7 linked regions of the Homo sapiens genome follow. The protein of the gene in region 2 interacts with the protein of the main gene of each other region in a biochemical or structural test. Each region holds a gene or a part of one and is shown on either strand. Other genes may lie near its edges.

Region 1 (3,500 bases), on a different chromosome or scaffold from region 2:
CCCATCCAGGTGGGTCGGGGCAGAAGCTTGGGGACCACCTAAAGCTCCTCCTGAGGTGGCTCTGATGACCTCTCATCCTGAAGCTCCTAAGAAAGGCTGTAAAATGAGATCATTCCCCTCCTGGCCTTGAGGGCTTCTGCATGGGCCAGCTCTACTCTGAGGATGTGTGGGTACCACGTGGACAGGCTGAGGTAGGGGTTTCTTCCCTGTCTCCACAGGCCAGGTCCCTGTGCTGCTGCTGCTGCTGCAGGTGCTGGCTGGGCTCAGGGCGGAGCCTGCGTCTGGAGGCTGGGGGAGGGATGGCCCAGCCAGGAGCCCAGCACAAGCAGAGTCTGGGACATAGGCTGGGGAGTCTGGGGAGCTGGCTTGGTCTTCAGCCTGGCAAGGTCTGGTCTCTAGCATCCTTTCGTTGGCTTCACTGCCTGTCTCCACAGGGAGGGAGCTTTTATCAATGTAATCACAAGCAAGGACCAGATGAAACTTGTGAGGCCACACAAGAAAGGGAAAGGGGGACACGACAACAGAATTAATTAATTGTTACAGGCTCTGGATTAATTCTGAAGTTACTCATGTGATAGACCTCTTGGGAAGAAAGCCACTAGAAGAGTCATGCATACATTTACAGCAATGCCTCATTTCCCGCCCTGAGCCATGGCTCCCCAGCTGTGGGCTTAGGGGGCTATACCTTAAGTATCCTAAAGGGGAGAGGCCATGGCATAATATTTTTAAAAATAATAAAGCCGGCCTGGCATGGTGGCTCAGGTGCCTGTAATCCCAGCACTTTGGGAGGCCAAGGCAGGTGGATCACTTGAGGTCAGGAGTTCAAGACCAGCCTGGGCAACATGGTGAAACCCCATCTCTTCTAAAAATACAAAAATTAGTTGGGTATGGTGGAGCGTGCCTGTAATCCCAGCTACTTGGGAGGCTAAGGTGGGAGGATCACTTGAACCCAGGAGGTGGAGGTTGCAGTGAGCCAAGATTGTGCCACTGCACTCCAGCCTGGGCGAAAGAGGGAGACGCCATCTCAAATACTACTAATAAAGCCATTTATTGAGGGCTTACCACTTTGACAAGTGCCTTCAACGTACTATCTCATGTAATCCTCATAACCCTGTGGGTTGTTTGGTTGTCCTGTAGGCACTGGAACCCGCAGGACGCCCGTGGCTGCTGACTCCCATGCTGCAATCCCACTGGTGCCATGTATCCTTGACATATATCGGAGTACACGGTAGGTGCTTAACCAATGTTTGCCCTTCTGACTCTAAGTGGAACATGTCTAATCCCTGCAAGCTCCTAAAAAACTGTCTTGCCTCTTTGGTCTCTGTGCCCCCACGCCCTGTCTTCCTGATCTCTTTAGCTAGAGTGACTCCAGGCCTCACTGCCTGGGGCTAGGTACAGGAGCCCTGGAGTCTATACTCAGACCCTCCTGCAGCCATGCCTGGCACACTGCATGGCCTCTGTGGCCTAACTGCTGTTATGGAAGCTGCTGCAAGTGTCCAGAGTCAGCCCCAGTGCCAAGGGCTGCTGGCTTGATCTGGGGACTCCTGGGGTAGGTGGTGGTGGAGGAGGAGGAGGAAGGCTGATGCTCCCCATCTGTTATTGAATTTGCTTAAGGCAGTGGTTCTTAATGGGTGTGCTCGAGTGACATTTGGCAGTGTCTGGAGGCATTTTTGGTTATTCCAACCGAGGGTACCACCAACTTCTAGTGAGTAGAGGCCAGGGAGGCTGCTACAGTGCAAGGAGAGCCCACCACAAAGGATGGACTGACCTGAGCGCCTGCAGTGAGGACGCTGAGAAGCCCCGGCCCGGAGCAGCTCGGGGGGTCTCAGCTTGCCATTGAGAGGCTTGGCTTCAGAGTAGAAATCTTGAAAGATGTGTCTGAGTTGCCCAGAAGGAAACCACTCCCCTGGATTTGGAAGTATGGTGTTGCTGAGCTCGAGATAACTACCGCCTGCTCCCACAAGTATGGGGGACATCCCGGCATACCCAGCAGCAGTGGCCCATGGTGAGTACTCAGTACATTGTGCAGGGATGGACAGGCCTCTCCCCCTGCTGTGGGGTGCTGGCAGGAGCCCAGAAAGATGCAAATGAGTGCCCAGCCCAGTGTTGACAACCCCTTTCTCCAAATCCCTGAGGCCTCGCAGCAGGACTCCTGAGAGACAGAGGGAGGTCAAGCTCCGAATCTCACCTTCCCAGCAGGGTGCACTGTCCTGATCTTACGTTGGTTTTCTGGCTGAGTCTCCCCAGGGGCACAGCCTTCCAGACACCCTGCAGCTCACAGATGCTCGTGTTCCTCTCACAGATACATCAAGCCACAACCCATGGGGATCCCAACCCACTGTCCTTTAACCTAGTAGGGGACTAGAGTGCACAAAGCTCAGAACTTTCTCTTTTTTTTTTGAGACGGAGTCTCGCTCTGTCTGTCCCCCAGGCTGGAGTGCAGTGGTGCGATCTCAGCTCACGGCAAGCTCTGCCTCCCGGGTTCACGCCATTCTCCTGCCTCAGCCTCCTGAGTAGCTTGGACTACAGGCGCCCGCCACCGCGCCCGGCTAATTTTTTTTGTATTTTTAGTAGAGACGGGGTTTCACCGTGTTAGCGAGGATGGTCTCGATCTCCTGACCTCGTGACCCATCCACCTTGGCCTCCCAAAGTGCTGGGACTACAGACGTGAGCCACCACGCGCGGCCGCCCAGAACTTTCTCTGAGTACCTCAGCTGGCAGGCAGTGACCCAGAGAGGTTGTAGTCCGGGTCATCCCCAAACCCACACCCTGTGCAGGCTGGGCCACACTCACCCCACCGATGACAGGGGAGTACCCAGGCTTGTCTTAAAGCCCTCCCAGGAGGGAGGGGAGGCTCCATTACCCATGCCACTGTCAGCAGCCGTTTCTTAGGACTGCCTTTGACCCTCCCAGGAAGGAGCTAAAGAACAAGTGGCTGCTGTGCTTGTAAAGCCTTCATACGCAAGAGTCATGAGCCAAGAGGGCCCGGGCCGGACAGGCAGCCCCAGAGCACTCCCCACCTTCCTTCTCTGACTCACTCTCCATCATGCCTGGGGGTGACTCACCCTCTCTCTATCAGTCTCCTCCTCTGCCAAATGGGAAAAGAGGTTACTGTCACTATCAACAGGATGCTGGAGGGCCTGGAAGAAGCAAAAAGGTGCGCTCCACTCTGCCTGCCAAGAAATGTCACCACGGGGGCTCCCTTCACCCTTTCCTTTCTCACAAGAAAAATGTGCGTCTGAAGCAGTCACACATGCCACAAGTCGGCCTCCTGCTGCCCCTGGACTAGGCAAATCCAGCTTTTCCTATGGCCACACACTTGGGAACAAATACTGACAGAAATGGGAAACAACACAACAGCCACAGAGAAAAGAAGGAAAGGAAGGGAGGGAAGGAGGAGGCGAGCCACCCTCCTTAGAGAAGAGGTTACCGTGCACATTTCTGCCGCCTTAGGCGGAAGCAGTCCAGGGAGCCTCTTTGCCAGTCCTCCAAGGGGAAGG
Region 2 (3,500 bases):
ATTTATATATGCCTGTCAGCTACACCCTCCAGTAAATGAATCCATCTATTTTCTACAGCCCGTGCCCAAGTGTTACACATGCTGTTTAATTAGGATCCAAAAATGCAGGGATTTTTCAGATTATTCACTGTTTCCCTCATTATCTGAACTTCCCATTGCTTTCCTCCTTAAGTGCACAAGAGCTATGAATTAATTTTCTTTCTTGCTACCGTGAAGATTCTGGAGTTATCTTAAAACAATGAAGACAACAGAGAGAAACTCAAAACCTTTCTAATGTGGTTTTAGTTGCTGATCATGTAAAAATGGTAGCTAAGTTCAGAGATCAATGGCTCTTAACCATTTTTTTTTAAGATTAGAGACCCCTGTGAGAATCTGTTGAAAGTTCTAAGTCTCAAGAAATAAGAAAACAACATAGTATTTACTTCATGTGTACGTACACTTACAGGATAGTCATAAACCCTCCTGAAGACTAAGTGAAAATCACGTATATACCCTGTTATACCATCTCTTTTCTCATAATAAAACCAGTGTAAACATTTGACTAGTTATAGGCAAATACATTTAGGTTATGGGCATCGCATATGTATTTTAAGTAACTGCAAAATGTGAACAGTGTGATAGAAAAGTTGAAGATGCCAAATTCACTTCACCTTATTCTGAATTATTTCATACTTTAAAAATATTAAGTAGGCAGGTTGTAAATTTCAGAATCTCCATGAATATTATAAACCTATATGTTATTTACCCTTTCTTTTCATTTGTTATGTTTCCTTGGTCTTTCTAAAATGGTATAAATCCCCATTGAAAAGACCTTTTATTAGACTTACTCCTAATTACTTCATCCTCATTATCACATGCTGTTACAACTCAGTATCCCAAGAGTAATCATTTGATGAATGTGATACCATGTTTTCCTGAATATGGCTATAAAGAGATACGGAGTGTGGAAGCTGGTAGAAGTATGTCCACACCCAAGCAAATGTGGCCAAGACTGTGAACATCTCACCCAGTAACATCGCCTTTGTTATTGTGGCAGCGCGGGCGTTGGAAGAACTGGAGTCTTCATAACGCTAAGCATTGTTTTGGAAAGAATGAGATATGAAGGAGTTGTAGATATCTTCCAGACTGTCAAAATGTTAAGAACACAACGACCAGCTATGGTACAGACAGAGGTGAGAAAATCCATTGCATTTTTCGCATCTCAAGAGCCTACGTTTTGCTAGCCTGGACCTCCCGGACTCCATACTCTCTCAACACCAGACACAAAATACTGTGGGGAAAGCATCAAACTGTTTAATAATTTTGAACCTCATTTTCCCCCTTTTTAAATGGGATGAGATTATTAGTGTCTTAGTGTTGCTATAGAAATTATGTGAGATTATATGTTAGATTGAGCTATGTTAAATTTTACTACTGGACCATTTTTGACCAATAAAATGGCAATTTCATAAAATTCGTTATATTCATAGTCCTATAATATAAATATATAAATATATAGAAAGCATAATATTTAGTACATAATATAATCTCAGCCCATTTAACTTCTCCATTCTCCCTCTGTATGCCTACAGAGGTATCAGCTCTTCTATATTTCATGTCTTAACAATGGCCATTCAAAACATTTTGATTCTGGATAAGCCTAGAGATATTAATATTAGCCCCTCATTTCCTATTCCAATAATTAATATGGAAATTTGGATATTTCTCGTAATAATAAGAGTTTATGATATAGCCAGTCTGGTCTATTGAGCATTCATTTCTAAAGATAATATTACTGATAGAGTTTATGTTCTGCAAAAGGCCACCAAATTATACAACTTATATGTGTTCCTCAATTCATCATCCACAGTATCTTTCAGACGGATTTCAAAGTAGTGCAAGTGTTTGGCTTGCAATAGTCAAAACATTATGCCAGCTTGACAAACTTAATGGGTCTTAGGGGTTACAGAGGGAAATTGGACATTTAAAAAGCCTTAACACTCAGCCAAGCAACTTACTGTGACAAGATAGGAAAGTAAACACCATTTATTTTGCATTACCAACCATTTTTATTACAGAAAAATGCACATTTAAGCAAAATAGAAACTATCTGTCTACTTTCAGCCCGATTGGCCACTGAAAATAGGTTTCTTTTATGGGGAAAATCCTTTTCCTCATCCCTATAGAGAGCTGTAAATTGTGATTTTTCCATCTCTCCAACAATGCTTCAATTTATTCCAATATGATAGTGTTCTTCGTTGTCTGAAAAAGGCCATGCTTCATACTGCTTTTTTTTAGTGTGTGCCTCTCTAAAACAGACAACTAGCAATCACACAGAATTGGGCTGAATTTACAGGTATTTTTTGATGTGGGCAGCCAGTCCTGTGAAGCCATTTTCAGGGATGGAAAGCTTGGAAGTCCAGTGCCCTGTGTAAATGGATTTGTGTGCCTGGTGTGCCGCACCAGCTACCTTCTGGCTGTATATGAACATCATATGTAAGTGAGAGAGACAGCCAAAGGGTAGCTGAAATGACTGTGAGTGATTCTCACTGCAAGCTCTACTGTCCAAACATAATTTTTTAAAAATTCAAATTCTGTTGGCAGTAGTTCAGAAGATAAGTAAATTCAGATTTTTCTCAGGACAGTTTGTGTCTGTATCAGCCTCTCTTAAATATTTAAACTGAGAATTAGTTATCTTGAATAAGCAGATAATTGTAAAGGATGATTTTCATCATTATCTGCTTATAAGGCATGTAAGAAGTTTATGTGTTCAATTGGTGGTAATGGTTTGATACTACTTGGAAAACACTTGTCTGGGAAGGTAATGTTCACTCGACCTGCCACTGCTTGGAATTGGGAGATCGTTTTAGTCAAATTGATTGGCAAAGTTAATCAACACCCCATGTGGCTTTTTCTTTGTTCACTATAAACAATTGGTCATTGGATTAGACCAGTTGACGAAAGTAGTGATTTTGCCCCTATATAGATGTTATTTTGTTATGCAATATTGATTTTTATTTTTCTATTAAAATATGCTCATGGTCCCTTCTTTTGCTTCTCCCCATTCATTGTCTCCTGCAGGATCAATATCAGTTTTCCTATCGTGCCGCACTAGAGTACCTGGGCAGCTTTGACCACTATGCAACGTAGAAACCCCTGACCCATTCTGGATTTTTACTACAGGCCCTTCAATATCCATGGAGTCTCTTCTGAGCCATACAGGGCACTTGAGAAGTCCTTCTTAACTTCTAGCTAACAACTACTTAGTGGGACTATTACACACAAAACAAATTAAAAACAAATTATTCCAGGTGGACCAAGAATTCACAGTTTAATAATCTAACCTGAAAAATAATGAAGAGAATCCTGACTGATGAGGCATCTGAAGGATTTTATTTACAGATACCTCAAGGATTCAAAATCAAGGGAAGAAGAAATCACAGCAAAGAACCACCATCTTATTCAGGATTGCTTGAAAGGTGCAAGGAGAAATTGCCAGAATGCTGCAGTTCAGCACAAGA
Region 3 (3,500 bases), on a different chromosome or scaffold from region 2:
GACCTCCAGGATGGATCAAGTATTTTTGATCTCTCTTGCACCATGGGCCCTTTGGCTGTGTGATGAAACTCATGGGATCCCATCTCCAAACAATCATTTTACATGCATAAAATAAAACACACAGAATTTCAAAGGACACCATACATTCCTTGAGCGGTAAGGTTTTAGGCCATGTCCTTCATGTTTCATATAAGGGAACTCATCTGTGGTCAGCATTTTGGCCCCTGGCCTTCTGTCACTCTGTGACCTTCTTTCCTCTGAATGACTTATGTGATTCTATTGCAGCTTTCCACATTTAACCTCCCTTTCTACCAGACCTAGGAAATGACCCCTTGATTTTCAGAGAACTTTTCAAGGTCAGTACCATTGTCTTCACTTCTAGATGCAGAGACTAAGGCCCAGGGGGTTCAGCACAGGTGAGAGGGCTGATGCTACCTGTAAGACCCAGGGGGCTCACATGATGTGGTCTGACTCAGTCAGCGCTCAATTGGGAAAGGGAAGCTCTTCTCCCTCTAGGGCTCTAAGTAGGCTCTAGGGCTGCTTAGAGGACCCAGCAGAGGTCTCCCAGGGGAAAGAGACTCCCTGACGGTGAAGCCAACCCAGAGAAAAATAGAACTTAGGGAAGGTAAGAAACTGAGAATACAGATTTGTAGGGGACCTTTGATCCAGCTGAACCTGAAGCAGGTTCCTGACTTGTTAATGACATGAGTCAACACACTCTCCCTCCCTTTCTCTCTCTCTTTTTTTTTTAAAAGCCAGTTTGATTCAGTTACCAAAACTGAATAAGTGCATTTAGTGAGTGTCCAAACTAAGTCAGGTATTAATTATCCTTATCTTACAGATGAGAAAACTGAGGGAGGCCAGGAGAATGAAATGACTAGCAAGTGGAAAAGCCATGATTTGAATCTCACTCTTTCTGACCTCAGAGCCTTAACCATGACTGCATATGAGTCCAGGTGAAGGTCAAATGCATGCCTCTTTTGGGGAGTCAGAACCTTCAGCCAAGAGGTCTATTCATTGTCCTTGTATATCCTCCAACTGGGCTTAGAACAGAACATTCATAAGCTCATAGCCATAAGACCACTGACCACAGCCACCCAGCCGGGAGGTGTGGTCTTTCTTTACACATATCTCTCAGGCTGCCCGTGTGGATTCTTTTCTTCTTAGCCTTGTAGTTGATGTTCTTTTTATCTCCTCTTACCTGCACGAATGGCACAGTTTGCCCCAGAATCCCCACAGACACCTTTGGGGAAGAGGGGTATAGGTGGGAGCAGCCCCAAGACCTCCCCATCCCCTCCTCCTTCCCCAGCCAGACACCCTCCCTGCCTTTGCCACAGCCGCTTGCTCACCTGTAAATCAGTACCTCATCGTCAGAGCAGTTGTACTGCAGCTGGTACATCTTCACCCGGGGTGCTGACTTGCTGACAGACCACTTGACCAGGGCCGAGGTGGTGGTCACTTCAGACACAAGCACAGCCCGTTCCGGGGGGCTTTTGGGAGGCTCTCCGCCCCCACTGCCTCCACCTCCCCGGCTGGTCTTGCTGGAGCCAGTGATGTCTGAGAGGCGGGACTTGGGGGGTGCAGTGCGGCTGGTGCTGTTGCTGAGGTGTGGCAGCTGGACGATGGAGACCTCCACCATGGCCGTGGCCTCTCCGGCAGCATTGGCAGCAATGCAGGTGAAGGCACCACTGTCCTGAGATGTGGTGATGAAGATGTCCAGGGTGCCATTGTCATAGACAGCGGTCCTTGAGGAGTTCCCTACCAGGCGGTCATCGGGGGCTACCCAGTGGATAAGGGGGCTGGGGTCCCCAATGGCTTTGCACTTGAGTGTGGCCGCCTGGCCCTCCAGAACCAGCAACTTGTGTGTGTGCTGGGTGATGAGAGGCGGCTCGCACACAAACTCCTCCTCACGCACATGCCAGAAGTAGCGACCCTTGAGGCCCCCTGGGGAGCCACAGGTTTCCAGGTCATCGTCCCGCTCGAGCCTCCGCAGCCAGAGAAGCTCACAATTGCAGTGAAGTGGGTTACCCCCAAAACTAAAGGACAAGGGTGGGGCAAAGGGTGTGGCTGTCAAAGCCGAAGCCTGGGAGCGGGCAAAGATGGGATCAGGGGGCAGCTTCTGCAGCCGATTGGAGGTGAGATCCAGGCGGGCCAGTTTCTGCAGGTCTGCAAAGGTGCCCTCGGCGATGTGATCCAGCAGGTTGTGGTCCAGGCTCAGCTGGTGGAGGTTGACCATGCGTCGCACGGAGTCCCACGGCAGGCCATGGAGGTTGTTGTAGGAGAGGTCCAGATCCTCCAATGTCAGCAGGAAGTCCTCAAAAGCCTCATCTGCGATGCCGCCCAGCTGGTTGTTGTTCACGATAAGGTGCTGCAGGTTGACCAGGCCCCGGAGGGTGTCCTCCCCAAGGCTTGGCAGCCGATTGCTGTCAAGATGCAGGGAGCGGAGGCTCTCGAGGTCCAGAAAGGAAAAGGGCTGGATGTGGCTGATGGTGTTCCTGGACAGGGTCAGGTCCACCAGCCCCGTCATGTTGGCAAAGTCCTGGCGGCTGATGTGGATGATGAAGTTGCCGCCCAGGCGCAGCTCCACTGTCCGCCGGTCAATATCAGGGGGTACAAAGAGCAGCCCCTTGGAGGGGCACAGGGTCCCCAGTGACTCAGACAGATTCTGGCAGACACAGTACTTGGGGCAGGCGTCGACCACGGCAAACGCCATGCCAAACGCTAGCAGGCCACCAAGCAGGGTCTCCATGGTCTGGTCACTCAGCGCCTGGAAGGGAGAAACACAAGCTCAGGGTCAGGAGGCAAATTCCTAATGCACTCACCCAGAGCTTCCTCCCTCACATTAACCCTCACTGCCTTAGGGAGTGGCATAGAATGGCAAGTGCTCAAGCAAGACCTAATCTCTTCCATGAATCCCTCTAATGCAGTTTTACTGTTTCTCTTTTCCTTAGCTTTATCACCTTCTAACACACTATTTAGTTTACTTATTTATGATGTTTATTTATTGTTTCCTGTTTCAGTCCTCTATGGTCAGCTCCAAAGAGGGCAGGTACTTTTGCCTGTTTTACTAATTGCTGTATCCCAATTACCTAGCTCAATGCCTGGAACACAGTAGCTGCTCAATAACTATCTGTTGGATGGATGGATGGATGGATGGGTGGATGGATGGATGGATGGATGGATGAATGCGATACCATATCATTGGCTTATCCAATAATTGAGTTTGAAAGGATATTATGGCTGTTTTTTGAGGCATAATTTTACATTCTTAATTGGTTTAGGCTTAGCATGAAATTAAATTGAACCAGCATTCCTTAAGAATGAGGTTGTAGATAAGAAGAGAGTTGGTGCTGAGAGACTCCAAGGTCAGTGGGGAACTGTTTCACCAAGGAGAATCCACATAGTTTATGAATCTTTGAGAATGTGGGAAGTGAAGAAGGAGGTGTGATGGGAGGCAAAGGAGTGAATTCTGAACCCTTCATAAGCAATTAGCCTCTATC
Region 4 (4,054 bases), on a different chromosome or scaffold from region 2:
GGCAACAAAGTGAGACCGTGTATCTATTATACAAAAATTTTTAAAAATTAGCTAGGCATGGTGGCGCCCACCTGTGGTCCTAGCTACATGGGACACTGAGGTGGGAGGATCAATTTGAGCCCAAGAATTTGAGGCTGCAGTGAGCTATGATTGCGCCACCACACTCCAGCCTGGGCAACAGAGCGTGACTCTGTCTCTCCAAAAGAAAAAAGTAAAGAAATGGTCAGAGAAATGACAGCTGGTCTGGGTGAGTGGCAGGAAAACCAGAGGGCTTTAGACGTGGTCAGAGATGGTAAAAGCTGGCCATGGGGAGACGGGGCAGCCAGGGTGGCAACAATGATCAGAAGTGGTCAGATATGACCAGAGAAGAGAAGGGGTTACAGATGGTCAGGAAGATGAGCAGTGGACAAAGAGAAGGGAGGGCATGGGTTGGGCTCAGATCTGGGGGAGATGACCATGTCAGAGACACGTGGTCAGAAACGGCCCAAAGCCAGCAAGGTGGTCAGAGAGGAGGAAAAGGACAGACATGGCAGAGTCAGTGGGAGCCCAGGACAGCTGCTCAGGAGGATGGTGCGGGGAGAGGTCATCGGAGAGAGGAAAGGCAGCAGAGATGTTCGAGATGATCAGAGGGCATCAGCAAGTGAGAGAGGAGAGGTGGCCAGAGATTATCAGAGGGCATCAGTGAGTGAGAGAGAGAGAAGAGGTGGCCAGAGATGATCAGAGGGCATCAGCGAGCGAGAGAAAAGAGGTGGGCAGAGATGATCAAGAGGGCATCAGTGAGTGAGAAAGAGAGAAGAGGTGGCCAGAGATGATCAAGAGGGCATCAATGAGTGAGAGAGAGAGAAGAGGTGGCCAGAGATGATCAGAGGGCATCAGTGAGTGAGAGAGAGAGGAGAGGTGGCCAGAGATGGTCAGACAGTTGCAGACTGGGAGTTAGGGTCAGGGGTGGGAGGAGGGCAAGAGCAGTGGGAGAGATGGCCAGAGAAAGGGAAAGGTGGCCAGAGGAAGCTAGAGAGGAGAGATGGACAGAGGCTGCTGGAGAGAAGAGTGGTGGACAGCAATGTCAAAGATGGATGGGGACGGTCACAGACCTAGGCTTAGATTCAGGGGTGGAGAAGGAGCAAGAGAGCTGGTGAATGATGATTAGAGAGAGGCACAGTGGACACAGATGTCAGCGATGGTCACTGAGAAGCAGCAGGCAGAGGCGACTGGAGAGAGGACCTGTGGACAGGGGTGTCACAAAGATGATCAGAGAGAGAAAAAGGGAACAGAGATGGCCATTGAGAGGACAGGTGGAGAAAGGAGCCCAGAGAGAGGAGTGGTGGACAAGAGAGGTGGCGGAGACGGTCGGACCGGATAGACAGCGAAAGGCTGTAAGGGTTGCAGGGGTCAGAGACCTGGAGGTCCCATCAACTGAGGCAGGGAAGGTCAGAGAGGGGCAAGGATGGCCAGTGTCCAGAGAGTGTTTGGAGCAGAGCAGGAGCTGAAGGCAGACCCATGGGGGAATGTCTTTTTTTCTGGAGAAACCCCAAGAGTGTCAAAGGGTACCTGGTACCGTAACCCGCAGCCACAATGCTCCTCCCAGCCCGTCCCCACCTTGAGGTTTCAGCAGCCTTACCTGAGCTAGAAGCAGCCCCAGGGAGCAGAGTCCTAGCTCCAGGGGAGTCAGAGGTCAGGGCTCTGGAGGGAGCATCTGGTCATGCTTTTCCTGTCCCCAAGGCTTCTGTAGAGGGACTGTGTCCTGACTCGGCTCAAATCTGTGGCAACGGAGTCTCCAGACCTTAATACTCGGGGTTCCAGACCCCTAAATATTGGGCCTCTAGGGTCCAGTTTTACGGGTCCAGTTTGGGTTGTTCAGGGTCAGGGTCTCCCAGGTCCAGTCTTGGGATGCTAAGCAGCCAAACGGTGGGGTTTAGAGTCTGAGATCCGATCCCGGGGTTCTGCATTCAGATATTGGGGTGCTGAGTCAAGATTGGGAGGTCTCAAGCCCCAGATTTAAGCACTCAGGTCTGCAGCAAGGACTTCAGGCCCAAACTCGGGTTCAGGCCCCTTGGAATCCCACAGTCCAGATCTTGGAATTTGAGGCCTGAATCCCAGGGTTCAGGTCCCCAAGAGTGGGTTCCAGGGTACAGTACTGGAAATCCAGTCCCAGATTTCAAGGTCCCAGGCCCAGAATTCAGAGTTCAGCTCCAGGCTTGAGGTTTTAGATGTCAAATCTTGGGGTTCTGCTCCAAATATTGGGGTCTGTGTTCCAAATTGTGGGGTTCCGGCTCCAAATATTGAGGTCCCAGTGACCGATGTTGAGATTCCAGCCCCATATACTGGGGTTCAGGCTCCAGATCTTGGGGTTCCACGGCCGGATCTCGGGGTGCTGGTCCCAGATCAGGGTTCCAGGCTCGGGTTTCCGGAATTCCCGATTCAATCTGGGGGTGCAGGCCCCCGAGGTGGAGGTTAGGGCGCGGGGTCCGGGGCGGCGGCGTCCCGGCTGGCTTCCTGGGCTGCGGCGGAGGCTGACTGGGAGGGAGGGGACCGGCTGCGGTGGGGAGGGGGGCGACCGGGCAGCCCCAGGGCCGGGTGGGGCGAGGCCTGGGAGCGGAGGGACGGTCAGACAGACTGGGACACGCGGGATGGGGGCACCGCAGCGCAGGCGGGGGCGCAGGGGGGAGGGGCCGCGCTCAGAGACCCCTCCCCCGCCGGGGCCGAGGCGGGGGCCGGGCGGGGGCCGGGCTGGGCGGGCCGGGTCCAGGCGCTCCCGCGGCCTCCTCGCCGGCAACCCAGGGCAGCGCGCGCACCGGCGCTTAAAGGCGCAGGCTCCGCGCGCACCCGCGCTTAAAGGCGTAGGCACCCGCCCCTTCTCTCAAAGACGCGCCCCGGCCCCACCTCCCATGGAGTCGCACTGGCGCTGCTGGGAAAGAGAATCCCTGGATACAGAGAGACTGAGACAGAGAGACAGAGAAGAACGGAGATACAGAAAGGCAGACAAAAAGATGGGCAGGCTTAGATTGATGGATAGAGAGGAGAAAATGGAAAGAGGCAGAGAGACAGATTGAAACACACACATATTCGAGACATGGAAATGCACAGAGACAGCGAGACACAGAGAGTGATGGAGAGACAAGAGATAAGGACAAGTCAGAGAAAGACAGAAACAGAGATAGAGACGTGCGTGCGCGCGCACACACAGACACACACATACACACTCACACGCTCTAAGACGCAGCACCTGGGCTGTGAGAATGGTATGTGTGTATGTGCATTCAGTAACTATTCCTAGCCTTGAGTGTAGCGCTTCATTCCAGAGCCACTGGCCCCCCAAACCTGTCTCTTTCTGCCCCCCTTATCTCAGCACCACCTCCCTGGAATGTCCTTTCCACGGTTGGAGTTTCCTTACCTGGCCATGCCCAGCAATAGGCTTGATCTTTCAGGCCAGAGGGGCTCCTTCCCAAGGCTCCTTTCTCTGCCTGCAAGAGGGAAAACTTGTGCCATCTGGGATTAGGGAAAGACCTCAAGACACACTGACAGCCGGGGGCGGTGGCTCACGCCTGTAATCCCGGCTCGTTGGGAGGCCAAGGCGGGCGGATCTTTTGAGATCAGGCGTTGGAGACCAGCCTGGCCAACATGGAGAAACCCCGTCTCTACTAAAAATACAAAAATTAGCCGGGTGTGGTGGCGGACGCCCGTAATCCCAGCTACTCGGGAGGCTGAGGCAAGAGAATTGCTTGAACCCGGGAGGTGGAGATTGTAGTGATCTGAGATCCAGCCATTGCACTCCAGCCTGGGTGACAGAGTGAGACTCTGTCTTTAAAAGAAAGAAAGAAAGAAAGAAAAGCAGAGAGGGATGCCTTGCCTTGCAGGAGCCAGGCCAGGTGTCCTTGCAGTGCAGCCCACCAGGATCACCCGGGGGCACCATAGATCTCCAGGTCCCAACCTCAGAGTTTCTGGTTCAGTGGGTCTGAGGTGGGACCCAAACATTTGCATTTTTAACGAGTACCCAGGTGATGCTAATGTGACTTTTCAAAGACCATACTTTTTTTTTTGAGACAGGGTCTTGCTT
Region 5 (3,500 bases), on a different chromosome or scaffold from region 2:
AAGCAATGCAATTGGTGTGGTATTTTTTTTTTTTTTTTTTTTATTATACTCTAAGTTTTAGGGTACATGTGCACATTGTGCAGGTTAGTTACATATGTATACATGTGCCATGCTGGTGCGCTGCACCCACTAATGTGTCATCTAGCATTAGGTATATCTCCCAATGCTATCCCTCCCCCCTCCCCCGACCCCACCACAGTCCCCAGAGTGTGATATTCCCCTTCCTGTGTCCATGTGATCTCATTGTTCAATTCCCACCTATGAGTGAGAATATGCGGTGTTTGGTTTTTTGTTCTTGCGATAGTTTACTGAGAATGATGGTTTCCAATTTCATCCATGTCCCTACAAAGGATATGAACTCATCATTTTTTATGGCTGCATAGTATTCCATGGTGTATATGTGCCACATTTTCTTAATCCAGTCTATCATTGTTGGACATTTGGGTTGGTTCCAAGTCTTTGCTATTGTGAATAGTGCCGCAATAAACATACGTGTGCATGTGTCTTTATAGCAGCATGATTTATAGTCCTTTGGGTATATACCCAGTAATGGGATGGCTGGGTCAAATGGTATTTCTAGTTCTAGATCCCTGAGGAATCGCCACACTGACTTCCACAATGGTTGAACTAGTTTACAGTCCCACCAACAGTGTAAAAGTGTTCCTATTTCTCCACATCCTCTCCAGCACCTGTTGTTTCCTGACTTTTTAATGATAGCCATTCTAACTGGTGTGAGATGATATCTCATAGTGGTTTTGATTTGCATTTCTCTGATGGCCAGTGATGATGAGCATTTCTTCATGTGTTTTTTGGCTGCATAAATGTCTTCTTTTGAGAAGTGTCTGTTCATATCCTTCACCCACTTTTTGATGGGGTTGTTTGTTTTTTTCTTGTAAATTTGTTTGAGTTCATTGTAGATTCTGGATATTAGCCCTTTGTCAGATGAGTAGGTTGCGAAAATTTTCTCCCATGTTGTAGGTTGCCTGTTCACTCTGATGGTAGTTTCTTTTGCTGTGCAGAAGCTCTTTAGTTTCATTAGATCCCATTTGTCAATTTTGGCTTTTGTTGCCATTGCTTTTGGTGTTTTGGACATGAAGTCCTTGCCCACGCCTGTGTCCTGAATGGTAATGCCTAGGTTTTCTTCTAGGGTTTTTATGGTTTTAGGTCTAACGTTTAAATCTTTAATCCATCTTGAATTGATTTTTGTATAAGGTGTAAGGAAGGGATCCAGTTTCAGCTTTCTACATATGGCTAGCCAGTTTTCCCAGCACCATTTATTAAATAGGGAATCCTTTCCCCATTGCTTGTTTTTCTCAGGTTTGTCAAAGATCAGATAGTTGTAGATATGCGGCATTATTTCTGAGGGCTCTGTTCTGTTCCATTGATCTATATCTCTGTTTTGGTACCAGTAGCATGCTGTTTTGGTTACTGTAGCCTTGTAGTATAGTTTGAAGTCAGGTAGTGTGATGCCTCCAGCTTTGTTCTTTTGGCTTAGGATTGACTTGGCGATGCGGGCTCTTTTTTGGTTCCATATGAACTTTAAGGTAGTTTTTTCCAATTCTGTGAAGAAAGTCATTGGTAGCTTGATGGGGATGGCATTGAATCTGTAAATTACCTTGGGCAGTATGGCCATTTTCACGATATTGATTCTTCCTACCCATGAGCATGGAATGTTCTTCCATTTGTTTGTGTCCTCTTTTATTTCCTTGAGCAGTGGTTTGTAGTTCTCCTTGAAGAGGTCCTTCACATCCCTTGTAAGTTGGATTCCTAGGTATTTTATTCTCTTTGAAGCAATTGTGAATGGGAGTTCACCCATGATTTGGCTCTCTGTTTGTCTGTTGTTGGTGTATAAGAATGCTTGTGATTTTTGTACATTGATTTTGTATCCTGAGACTTTGCTGAAGTTGCTTATCAGCTTAAGGAGATTTTGGGCTGAGACGATGGGGTTTTCTAGATAAACAATCATGTCGTCTGCAAACAGGGACAATTTGACTTCCTCTTTTCCTAATTGAATACCCTTTATTTCCTTCTCCTGCCTGATTGCCCTGGCCAGAACTTCCAACACTATGTTGAATAGGAGCGGTGAGAGAGGGCATCCCTGTCTTGTGCCAGTTTTCAAACTATCTCTCAGACCACAGTGCAATCAAACTAGAACTCAGGATTAAAAATCTCACTCAAAGCCGCTCAACTACATGGAAACTGAACAACCTGCTCCTGAATGACTACTGGGTACATAACGAAATGAAGGCAGAAATAAAGATGTTCTTTGAAACCAACGAGAACAAAGACACCACATACCAGAATCTCTGGGACGCATTCAAAGCAGTGTGTAGAGGGAAATTTATAGCACTAAATGCCTACAAGAGAAAGCAGGAAAGATCCAAAATTGACACCCTAACATCACAATTAAAAGAACTAGAAAAGCAAGAGCAAACACATTCAAAAGCTAGCAGAAGGCAAGAAATAACTAAAATCAGAGCAGAACTGAAGGAAATAGAGACACAAAAAACCCTTCAAAAAATCAATGAATCCAGGAGCTGGTTTTTTGAAAGGATCAACAAAATTGATAGACCGCTAGCAAGACTAATAAAAAAAGAGAGAAGAATCAAATAGACACAATAAAAAATGATAAAGGGGATATCACCACCGATCCCACAGAAATACAAACTACCATCAGAGAATACTACAAACACCTCTACGCAAATAAACTAGAAAATCTAGAAGAAATGGATAAATTCCTCGACACATACACTCTCCCAAGACTAAACCAGGAAGAAGTTGAATCTCTGAATAGACCAATAACAGGCTCTGAAATTGTGGCAATAATCAATAGTTTACCAACCAAAAAGAGTCCAGGACCAGATGGATTCACAGCCGAATTCTACCAGAGGTACAAGGAGGAACTGGTACCATTCCTTCTGAAACTATTCCAATCAATAGAAAAAGAGGGAATCCTCCCTAACTGATTTTATGAGGCCAGCATCATTCTGATACCAAAGCCGGGCAGAGACACAACCAAAAAAGAGAATTTTAGACCAATATCCTTGATGAACATTGATGCAAAAATCCTCAATAAAATACTGGCAAACCGAATCCAGCAGCACATCAAAAAGCTTACCCACCATGATCAAGTGGGCTTCATCCCTGGGATGCAAGGCTGGTTCAATATACGCAAATCAATAAATGTAATCCAGCATATAAACAGAGCCAAAGACAAAAACCACATGATTATCTCAATAGATGCAGAAAAAGCCTTTGACAAAATTCAACAACCCTTCATGCTAAAAACTCTCAATAAATTAGGTATTGATGGGATGTATTTCAAAATAATAAGAGCTATCTATGGTGTGGTATTTTTAATCTTGATTTCTAATGTTCGTTGCTGGCATATAGAAACATAGTCAGTGTTTGTATTTTTATCCAGTTCTGTGACCTTACTGAATTCACTTATTATTTCTAGAAGTGTGTGTGTGTGTAGATTCATTGGGATTTTCTGTGTA
Region 6 (3,500 bases), on a different chromosome or scaffold from region 2:
AGAGATAGATTAGATAGATAGACAGATAGATAGATAGATAGATAGATAGATAGATAGATAGATAGATGTAATGACAGATATAAAAAAAGCAACTTGAGCTCTTTGTGTCTATTGACCAACTACAGTTTATTTACATCCTTATAGAGCCCACTCAAATTATTGCAAAATACATGTATTTCTAAACATATCCATTACTTGGAAATGAAAGAGACATTAGAAGTCTGCACAGTAGAGGAAAATTCTATAAAATAAACCAATCTAATATGAAATAAGCACAGAGTTTAAAAATATTTTCTTTTCCAATAGTCAGAATTAGAAAAACTGATCCCATTGAAACATGAAAATATTCTAGATGTTGAGACATAAAAACATCTTTGGATACCTGAAAAGTAAACTAAATAGGAGACCTGTTTTTGTTTCTGAGTTAGTGATGATATCGATTATACAACATGATTCTTTAAAGACCAGAGTGTAGGCTCCATGTTTTGTTCACTGATATATCCCAAGATCCTAGAATAATATCTGGCACACAGCAGTGTTTATTAAATATTTATTACATTGAATTGTTGCTGGCATTCCTAGCATGGAAATTGTAGAATAAGGTGTCCTCTACCTGATCTATCATTTAGTTATAACTATTACTCTCAACAAAAAATAAAATTAGAAAATATTCATTTGTCGCTTAACGTTTATGAACAACTTGCCACACATATCCTCATCCAGTTCTCCAGGTTCTGCACAGCCTGGAGGCAGCTGGGCATCAAGAGCCCACATTGGAACCCCTGTCTGATGCCTGACTCTGTTCTCTCCCACTGTCACTGTTAAGGGTTGTGTCCCCTCTGCCCCCAAAATTCACATGTTGAAATCCTAATCCACAATTCCTCAGAATGTGACCTTGCTTAGAAATAGGGTCATTGCAGATGTAATTAGTTCAGTTAGGATAAGGTCATACTGTAGTAGGACAGACATGATTAGTTGCTTTATAACAAAGGGAAATTTGGACTCAGACGTGCACACAGGGAGAAGATCATGTGAAGATGAAGGCAGCGATCAGGTCAATGCTTGTACCAACTGGGCAATGTCAATGATTACCAGGAAACCACCAGAAGTTAGGGGAGCCCTAACAGTCCTCAGAAGGAACCAACTCTGCTGAACCCTTGATTTTGGACTTCTGGCCTCTAAAACCATGAGACAATAAATTCCTGTTGTTTAAGCCACCCAGTGGCACTTCGTGGCAGTCTGTGGCACCCAGTTTGTGGCACTCATTTATTTTGGCTCTAAGCAACCCTAGCAATCTAATACAGCCACCTACTCATTCCTAGCAGTTTGTCAGATGTCCTATCAGGGTACTTGGTAGCCCTGACCTTACAACCACTGGACACTCTCCTGTACAGAGCTGAGAGTTCATGAGATTGCCTCCAATTTATCCCAAAACATCCACAATTATATGTTGTCAATGTCTGACATGTTCTTCCATCTAATGGCACAGCAATTACGCCTGACACCTTTCCCTTACCGTCTCCTGGTTCCTGTGCTCGAGGAGGCATTGTAACCTGGAGGGGGCGGTGGAAACCAGGACTGCCTGTTAAGAAATGACACGGTAATAAACATTGTGATTGAAAGGCTGATCCCACCCACATGTCTGAAAATAATTTGACAGTTAAAAAGACAATGAGATTATACCAAACCTTGGAAGTAAAATGAACACTATTTCATAAATGAAGTAGGAAGTAACTGTCCTATATTCTAGGCTATCTGTTCCTCCAAGTAAACCTCTTTTCTCATTTCCTTTAGCACTAAGTAACGTGGACATCTCTTTTAAAAAGAAATCTAAAGCAAATCTAGAAAACAATGACAATTGTTAAGTCTAGATAGTAAATTCATATATGTTTATTATGTTATTCTCCTATTCTCCCTATTTTTCTGCTTGTCTGAACTATTTCACAACAGAAATAACAATCTTATACTCTACTCTATATATATATATATATATGTTTTATTTTTATTTTTATTTTTGAGACGGAGTTTCGCTCTTGTTGCCCAGGCCGGAGTGTAATGGCGCGATCTCCGCTCACCACAACTTCCGTCTCCCGGGTTCAAGCAGTTCTCCTGCCTCAGCCTCCTGAGTAGCTGGGATTACAGGCATGCACCACCACGCCCAGCTAATTTTGTAATTTTTAGTAGAGATGGGGTTTCTCCATGTTGGTCAGGCTGGTCTCGAACTCCCGACCTCAGGTGATCCACCTGCCTCGGCCTCTGAAAGTGCTGGGATTACAGGCATGAGCCACTGCGCCCAGCTTCAAAATATAATTTTTTTTTTTTTTTTTGAGATGTAGTCTCGCTGTCTCCCAGGCTGGAGTGCAGTGGCGCGATCTCGGCTCACTGCAAGCTCCGCCCTCCGCGATTCTGCTGCCTCAGCCTCCGAGTTGCTGGGACGAGGTTTCACCGTGTTAGCCAGGATGGTCTCGATCTCCTGACCTCGTGATCCACCCGCCTCGGCCTCCCAAAGTGCTGGGATTACAGGCTTGAGCCACCGCGCCCGGCCTCAAAATACAATTTTTAAAAAACTGTGAGCGAGCTAGGCGCAGGGCCTCACACCTGTAATCCCAGCACTTTGGGAGGCTGAGGCGGGTGGATCACGAGGTCAGGAGCTCAAGACCAGCCTGGCAAAAATGGTGAAACCCCATCTCTACTAAAAATACAAAAATTAGCTGGTCGTGGTGGCATGTGCCTGTACTCCCAACTACTCGGGAGGCTGAGGCAAATAATTGGTTAAACCTGGGAGGCAGAGGTTGCAGTGAGCCGAAATTGCACCACTGCACACTCCAAAAAAAAAGAAAAAGAAAAAAGAAAAAGAAAAGAAACTGATAGAAAACTCTGACAAGTAAAAATATTGAAAGCGTAAGTGAATATTATAGCAGCACTACCTTCAGTTCTAACCTCAATTAGAAAGATGTCCTCACATCACTAGGTCATAATTTTAGTTGGTAGCAATTGCTAAGCAGAAAGATCAAGATATGGATGAAAACTGAAGATATTCAGATGAGAATGATATGCACTACAGAAGAAAAGGCAGACAGGAAAGCTGGATTTAAATTGTTTAAGTAGGTCTATTCTCTGAGCCGCTGCAGAACTCAACTAAGACAAGGAACGAGTCAATCAAGGCAGATTCCAGCTCAATGTAAGGAATAGATGCTACCCAGGAGAGCAAGTCAAAGATGTGTCCCAAAATAGTGAGAATCTTATTGATGGCTTCAGTGGTCCCGAATTATGCCCAAAATGTCGGAGGAAAGATTCTTGCACTAGATAGGAGATGGAACTGACTGACCTAAAATTTCTCTTTCAAACTTAGGAATCTGTTTTTACTAGGCAAAGGGTCAAGGGACATGAAATTTGGGTTCAATGGAAAGATGAATCACATTTTCTAAGACTTTGCAGCTACAGCCAGAATTTTGTTGAAGGAAAAAACAGAATCAGTCATTTTTCTCCAGCAGCACCAT
Region 7 (4,116 bases), on a different chromosome or scaffold from region 2:
GTCTAGGTAGGAGTTGGAGTGCGTCCCGGTCTCCGCCAACCCAGTGCTGTTTTTACTGTGCGAAGTTAACGTGGGCGAGATCCTAGCGTACAGCTGAGGGCAGATCTCGTCATTGGAGAGGAGCATGAAATCCTTTCTAAAGAAGTTCACCGGCGTCTCACACTTGAGGTCGCTCATCAGCACTTCGGAACCCAAGCGTTCTGCCCACTGCTTGAAAGGCACAATTGTGCAGGAGCACTCCCAGGGGTTTCCGTGGAGGTCTATCTGGATGATGGAGGTTAACTGGTCCAGCACCCCTGCCACCGGGAGGTACATGAAGTAATTGTTGTGCAGGCTGAGTTTAGAGAGCGAGACCCCAGCGAACACGTCCACAGGCAGGGACCTCAGCAGGTTGTTGTTGAGAATGAGGATCCTCAGTTTGGGCATGGCATTGAAAGTGCCCGGGAGGATGAGCTGGATAGCGTTGTACTCCACGTTCAGGTACTCTAGGTTTTGCAGCCCCGCGAATTTCTCCCGGGACAGCGTGTCCAGGTAATTGCTATCCATGTATAGCCACCTGAGGTCCAAAAGGTTCTTGAAAGTGTTGTTCTCTACAGTAGCGATGTTATTGTTGCCCAGATCCAACAGAATGAGGTTCTTGTAATCCACAAAGTGCGATTTTCGGATGCTGTGGATCTTGTTATCTCGTAGGAAAAGCTCCTGCACGTTAGAGAGCTTGGGCTTCAAATCAGCCAAGCTGCTCACGTTCCTGTTGTTGCAGTTCATCTTTAAACCCGACCCTGGGATGTGGTCGCAGCTGCAGCCCCCAGGGCAGGGTAAACTGTTAGCTAAGGGTTTGTTCCTGGAGCTACCCGTCGCTATCGCTGCTGTGGGTCTGATTTTGATCTGCCAGTTGCCTGGGATCTTTGTACCTCCGTTTGGAGCAGACCCTGGTGTGGCATGATCCTCTTGCCCATTTGTCTTGAAAGGAGTTGGCAGGGGTCCAGGAGCAAAGGTCTCTTCTTGGGCAGGGGGCGCCGGGAGACTAGAATCCACTCGGTTTTTCAAAGGACACAAGTCCTGTTCGGTGGTTTCATTGAGGTCTTTACCCTGCAGTCTGGTGGGGGCTTCGCAGACCACTCGGCCGATCAGGGCATTCTTGGGAATGTTTTCCAGCCATTCTTTCAGGGAGAGCAGATCACAGGTGCAGTCCCAAGGGTTATCCTCTAGCAGGATCTCCGCAATACCAGGGATTTGCTCCAAGACCTCCTCATAGGGCAGCGTTTTCAGCCTGTTACCCCGGAGGTCGAGGTGGGTGATGGGCACATACTGGAACACGTTGGCAGGTAGGGTGCTGATGAGATTGTCATTTAAAATGAGCACCTCCAGCTTGTTCAAGTCCTGGAAGGCCCCCGGGTCTATATCTCGTAATAAATTAAAATCAGCCTGGAGATATTCCAGATCGTCCAGCCCCAGAAAAGTCTGCTTTCGAAAAGACTTGATCTTGTTGTTGTTGATGTGCAGCCTTTTCACCAGCTGCAGCCCCAGAAAAGCCCCCGGAACGATTTCATGCAAGCCATTGTTTTCCATGTGCAAACTAACCGCATTATAAAAGTTAGCGAACTCATTAGGGAAAAGTCGAGTGAGGGAATTGCCATGCAGAAATAAATGGTAAAACTGGGAAGTCGGGGCAGTGAAACGCTGCAGACTTGTGAAGCCCTTTTTTTCACAGTCTACGTGTAGGTCCCCTTCTATCTCATTGCAGGAACAGATCTTCTCTTTGCAAACGTCCCCTGTAACGTTTCCAGCGGCAAAACAAAGAGACGTCTCCAGCAACAGAATCCAAAGCAGCATTTTTAAAGCGAGCAATTCATCCCCGATCTCATCACAAAGTAACAGCGACCATCCTGCTCGCCACAGACACAATTCAAGTTCATTTAGTGCTCCAATGTCCGAAGCCAGGAAAGGAGAAGAAAAGGGTTTGGGGGGGTGGGGGTGGATTCCTTCCTCCCTAACCCCCCCGCACTGCAATAGCCCAGACGCCAGTCAATAATTATATCCACAAACTATCCAGGCACGTAGTGCAAGGCAAGCAAAGAAAAAAAAAAAAAAAAAAAAGTAGGAAAAAAACCCCACTCCCCCACAACACTTTAAAAATAACAGAAAAAGAAGTTAAATATATACATATAAATTAAAAGTACACCCTTACAGAATCTCATCTACTGATCTTCACTGATCAGAAATGAAACAATGCTAGTAATTAGAAGCAAGTGCATGTTAGAGAAACAAGCAGAGGGTTTGCAGCGTAGTACAGGCGCACTGCCTGTGCATGGCTGTGCGTCGGACTGACCTTGCCTCTCTGATACAAAGCAGGGTTTTCCGCGGCTTCTGTTGTTGAGGCTGCTGGTGGAGTTCTTGCTGTGGTTGCGGGTTGCCCAGAAGTCCCCCCGAGGTGCTGTCCAGTTCCCCCGGTGCTGAAATCACGCCCGACCGAAGGACTCACGCTGCCCAGCCAATGGCGCTGGAAAATTTCCGCAATCGCTGCGTTTTGTGGTTGTCCATCCTTTTCCTTTCCTCCCCTTCGGTCCTCTTAAGGCTTTTTTTTTTCTTTTCTGTGCTCTCGCTCTCGCTTACTAGCTCTTCTTTTCCTGTTCTCCTTCTCTTTCTTCTGCTCTTTCGGAATTACGTGGAGGGGGGCGGAGGGCGGGGGGCGAGTTGTCTGAGGGAGGAAGAGAGCGCGAGAATGAGGGGAGGGGGGCGGAGAAGAGAGTTGCTAAGAAGCTCTGCTCGTTCCAGCCTGGTGCACTCTGAAAGATCTGACACCCTCTGCTGATCTGCAGTAGCAAAAATCCATCTGGCTAGGGAATGCTGAAAGAAAAAAAAATCAATCCACGTACAGGGCAAGCGTTAAAAATGTGGGCATAAAAGGCTGACGATCTACATAGATGCTTATTTTAAATGGATTATTTGATTATTTTTGCGTGCTGGAAACTTTACCCTTTCCTTTCCTTAACGAGTTCACAGCCCCCACCAGCTCCACCATTCGGAAAGGAGTGCTTTTAAAACATTTATTTCCCAATGGCTTGAATAAAATTAGTGTCAGGGTGTCAAGCGAACAGCAATTTGAGGTAATTATACTGCACGCCATTTTCATCGGTTCTTTAAATGCATTTCTTCCTTCTCTGCGGCACAGTGTTTTACGCTATTTGATGTCTTTGAAACATTTCTTTTGGTATGTTCAAAGTGGCTTTCGGAACATATATGTTACATAATATCATAATTGAGTATGAATTTTTTTGCAAGGTATATAAATTAGGCATATACTTTTTAAAACTTGCAGAAATTTAGTCAATTTGGTCATTGAGAGTTAGGTTCTTTGATATTTCTTGAATGTTATTTAACTCTGGAGGGTGAAACACAATGCATGCTGAAGTCCTTGATTCCAGTCCCGAAAGCTTTAACTGAGAACCGGAAAAGAAGGGAGAGGGGGCAGGGAAAAATCCCAAGATGATTTGTGAGTGCTGTTAAAAACCCACTGGCAGGCAGGCGCGCGCACACTACACGCACGCACACACACACACACACCCCACTGACAAAGTTTTCACATCAGTTTGAACTAATTTAAATGTTTACAAGTAAATAACCAGTTGCATTTTGAGAGGAGGAGATAGAAATCTCTGGACTCTAAAGCTCAGCGAGAACGCTCTCTGCAGGTAGCCGGCAGCTCCTCTTCGCGCAGATGCTTGTTGGGTCACTGATGCTGGGGAAACACGAAGCTCAGGCTTTTTCCAGTTAAGGAAACAACAGATTCCAAACTCTGAGCTTATAAAAATCCAGTAATATCACCTTCTGGGATGGAAGAAAACGTGAACATGCTGCTTCCGTGAAGCCTCTTTTGCTGACTTTTCCTTTCAGAGTCGACACCTTTTCACATCAATACGTCCTAAAATATTTATAGATCATTTTAGGATTTGAAATTTTTAGGTCTTTTAAATAGAGTTACTGTTTGGCCCTTTCTTCACTCTATGCAGAGAGGATATGTTTACACCACTTGCCTTTTTAATTAGGTCTTTTGCAAGTTGGACAGCTGCAACGAGCTTGCTAATATTTTGTGCAAAAGAGCAAATGTTCAAGGAA

The links.
Region 1: the proteins of PTPRD (region 2) and PAK6 form a complex in vitro, tested with the Homo sapiens proteins (one large-scale study listed by BioGRID).
Region 3: the proteins of PTPRD (region 2) and LRFN2 interact in a biophysical measurement, tested with the Homo sapiens proteins (one large-scale study listed by IntAct).
Region 4: the proteins of PTPRD (region 2) and LRFN3 interact in a biophysical measurement, tested with the Homo sapiens proteins (one large-scale study listed by IntAct).
Region 5: the proteins of PTPRD (region 2) and SLAIN2 form a complex in vitro, tested with the Homo sapiens proteins (one study listed by BioGRID and IntAct).
Region 6: the proteins of PTPRD (region 2) and SCEL form a complex in vitro, tested with the Homo sapiens proteins (one large-scale study listed by BioGRID).
Region 7: the proteins of PTPRD (region 2) and SLITRK1 are reported together in a solved structure, tested with the Homo sapiens proteins (one study listed by BioGRID).

What each region holds. Positions count from the first base shown.
Region 1 is NC_000015.10:40,266,563-40,270,062, reverse strand, and holds part of PAK6 (serine/threonine-protein kinase PAK 6), read right to left. Parts: intron 1-3,500. UniProt on the Homo sapiens protein: Serine/threonine protein kinase that plays a role in the regulation of gene transcription. The kinase activity is induced by various effectors including AR or MAP2K6/MAPKK6.
Region 2 is NC_000009.12:8,317,503-8,321,002, reverse strand, and holds part of PTPRD (receptor-type tyrosine-protein phosphatase delta isoform 1 precursor), read left to right. Parts: intron 1-1,036; coding exon 1,037-1,172; intron 1,173-3,060; coding exon 3,061-3,129; 3' UTR 3,130-3,500.
Region 3 is NC_000006.12:40,430,365-40,433,864, forward strand, and holds part of LRFN2 (leucine-rich repeat and fibronectin type-III domain-containing protein 2 precursor), read right to left. Parts: intron 2,768-3,500; 5' UTR 2,750-2,767; coding exon 1,350-2,749; intron 1-1,349. UniProt on the Homo sapiens protein: Promotes neurite outgrowth in hippocampal neurons. Enhances the cell surface expression of 2 NMDA receptor subunits GRIN1 and GRIN2A. May play a role in redistributing DLG4 to the cell periphery.
Region 4 is NC_000019.10:35,935,120-35,939,173, reverse strand, and holds the start of LRFN3 (leucine-rich repeat and fibronectin type-III domain-containing protein 3 precursor), read right to left. Parts: upstream 2,801-4,054; 5' UTR 1,619-2,800; intron 1-1,618. UniProt on the Homo sapiens protein: Cell adhesion molecule that mediates homophilic cell-cell adhesion in a Ca(2+)-independent manner. Promotes neurite outgrowth in hippocampal neurons.
Region 5 is NC_000004.12:48,414,529-48,418,028, forward strand, and holds part of SLAIN2 (SLAIN motif-containing protein 2), read left to right. Parts: intron 1-3,500.
Region 6 is NC_000013.11:77,570,206-77,573,705, reverse strand, and holds part of SCEL (sciellin), read right to left. Parts: intron 1,583-3,500; coding exon 1,517-1,582; intron 1-1,516. UniProt on the Homo sapiens protein: May function in the assembly or regulation of proteins in the cornified envelope. The LIM domain may be involved in homotypic or heterotypic associations and may function to localize sciellin to the cornified envelope.
Region 7 is NC_000013.11:83,879,675-83,883,790, forward strand, and holds the start of SLITRK1 (SLIT and NTRK-like protein 1 precursor), read right to left. Parts: upstream 2,801-4,116; 5' UTR 2,330-2,800; exon of another isoform or gene 1,887-2,329; 5' UTR 1,834-1,886; coding exon 1-1,833. UniProt on the Homo sapiens protein: It is involved in synaptogenesis and promotes excitatory synapse differentiation. Enhances neuronal dendrite outgrowth.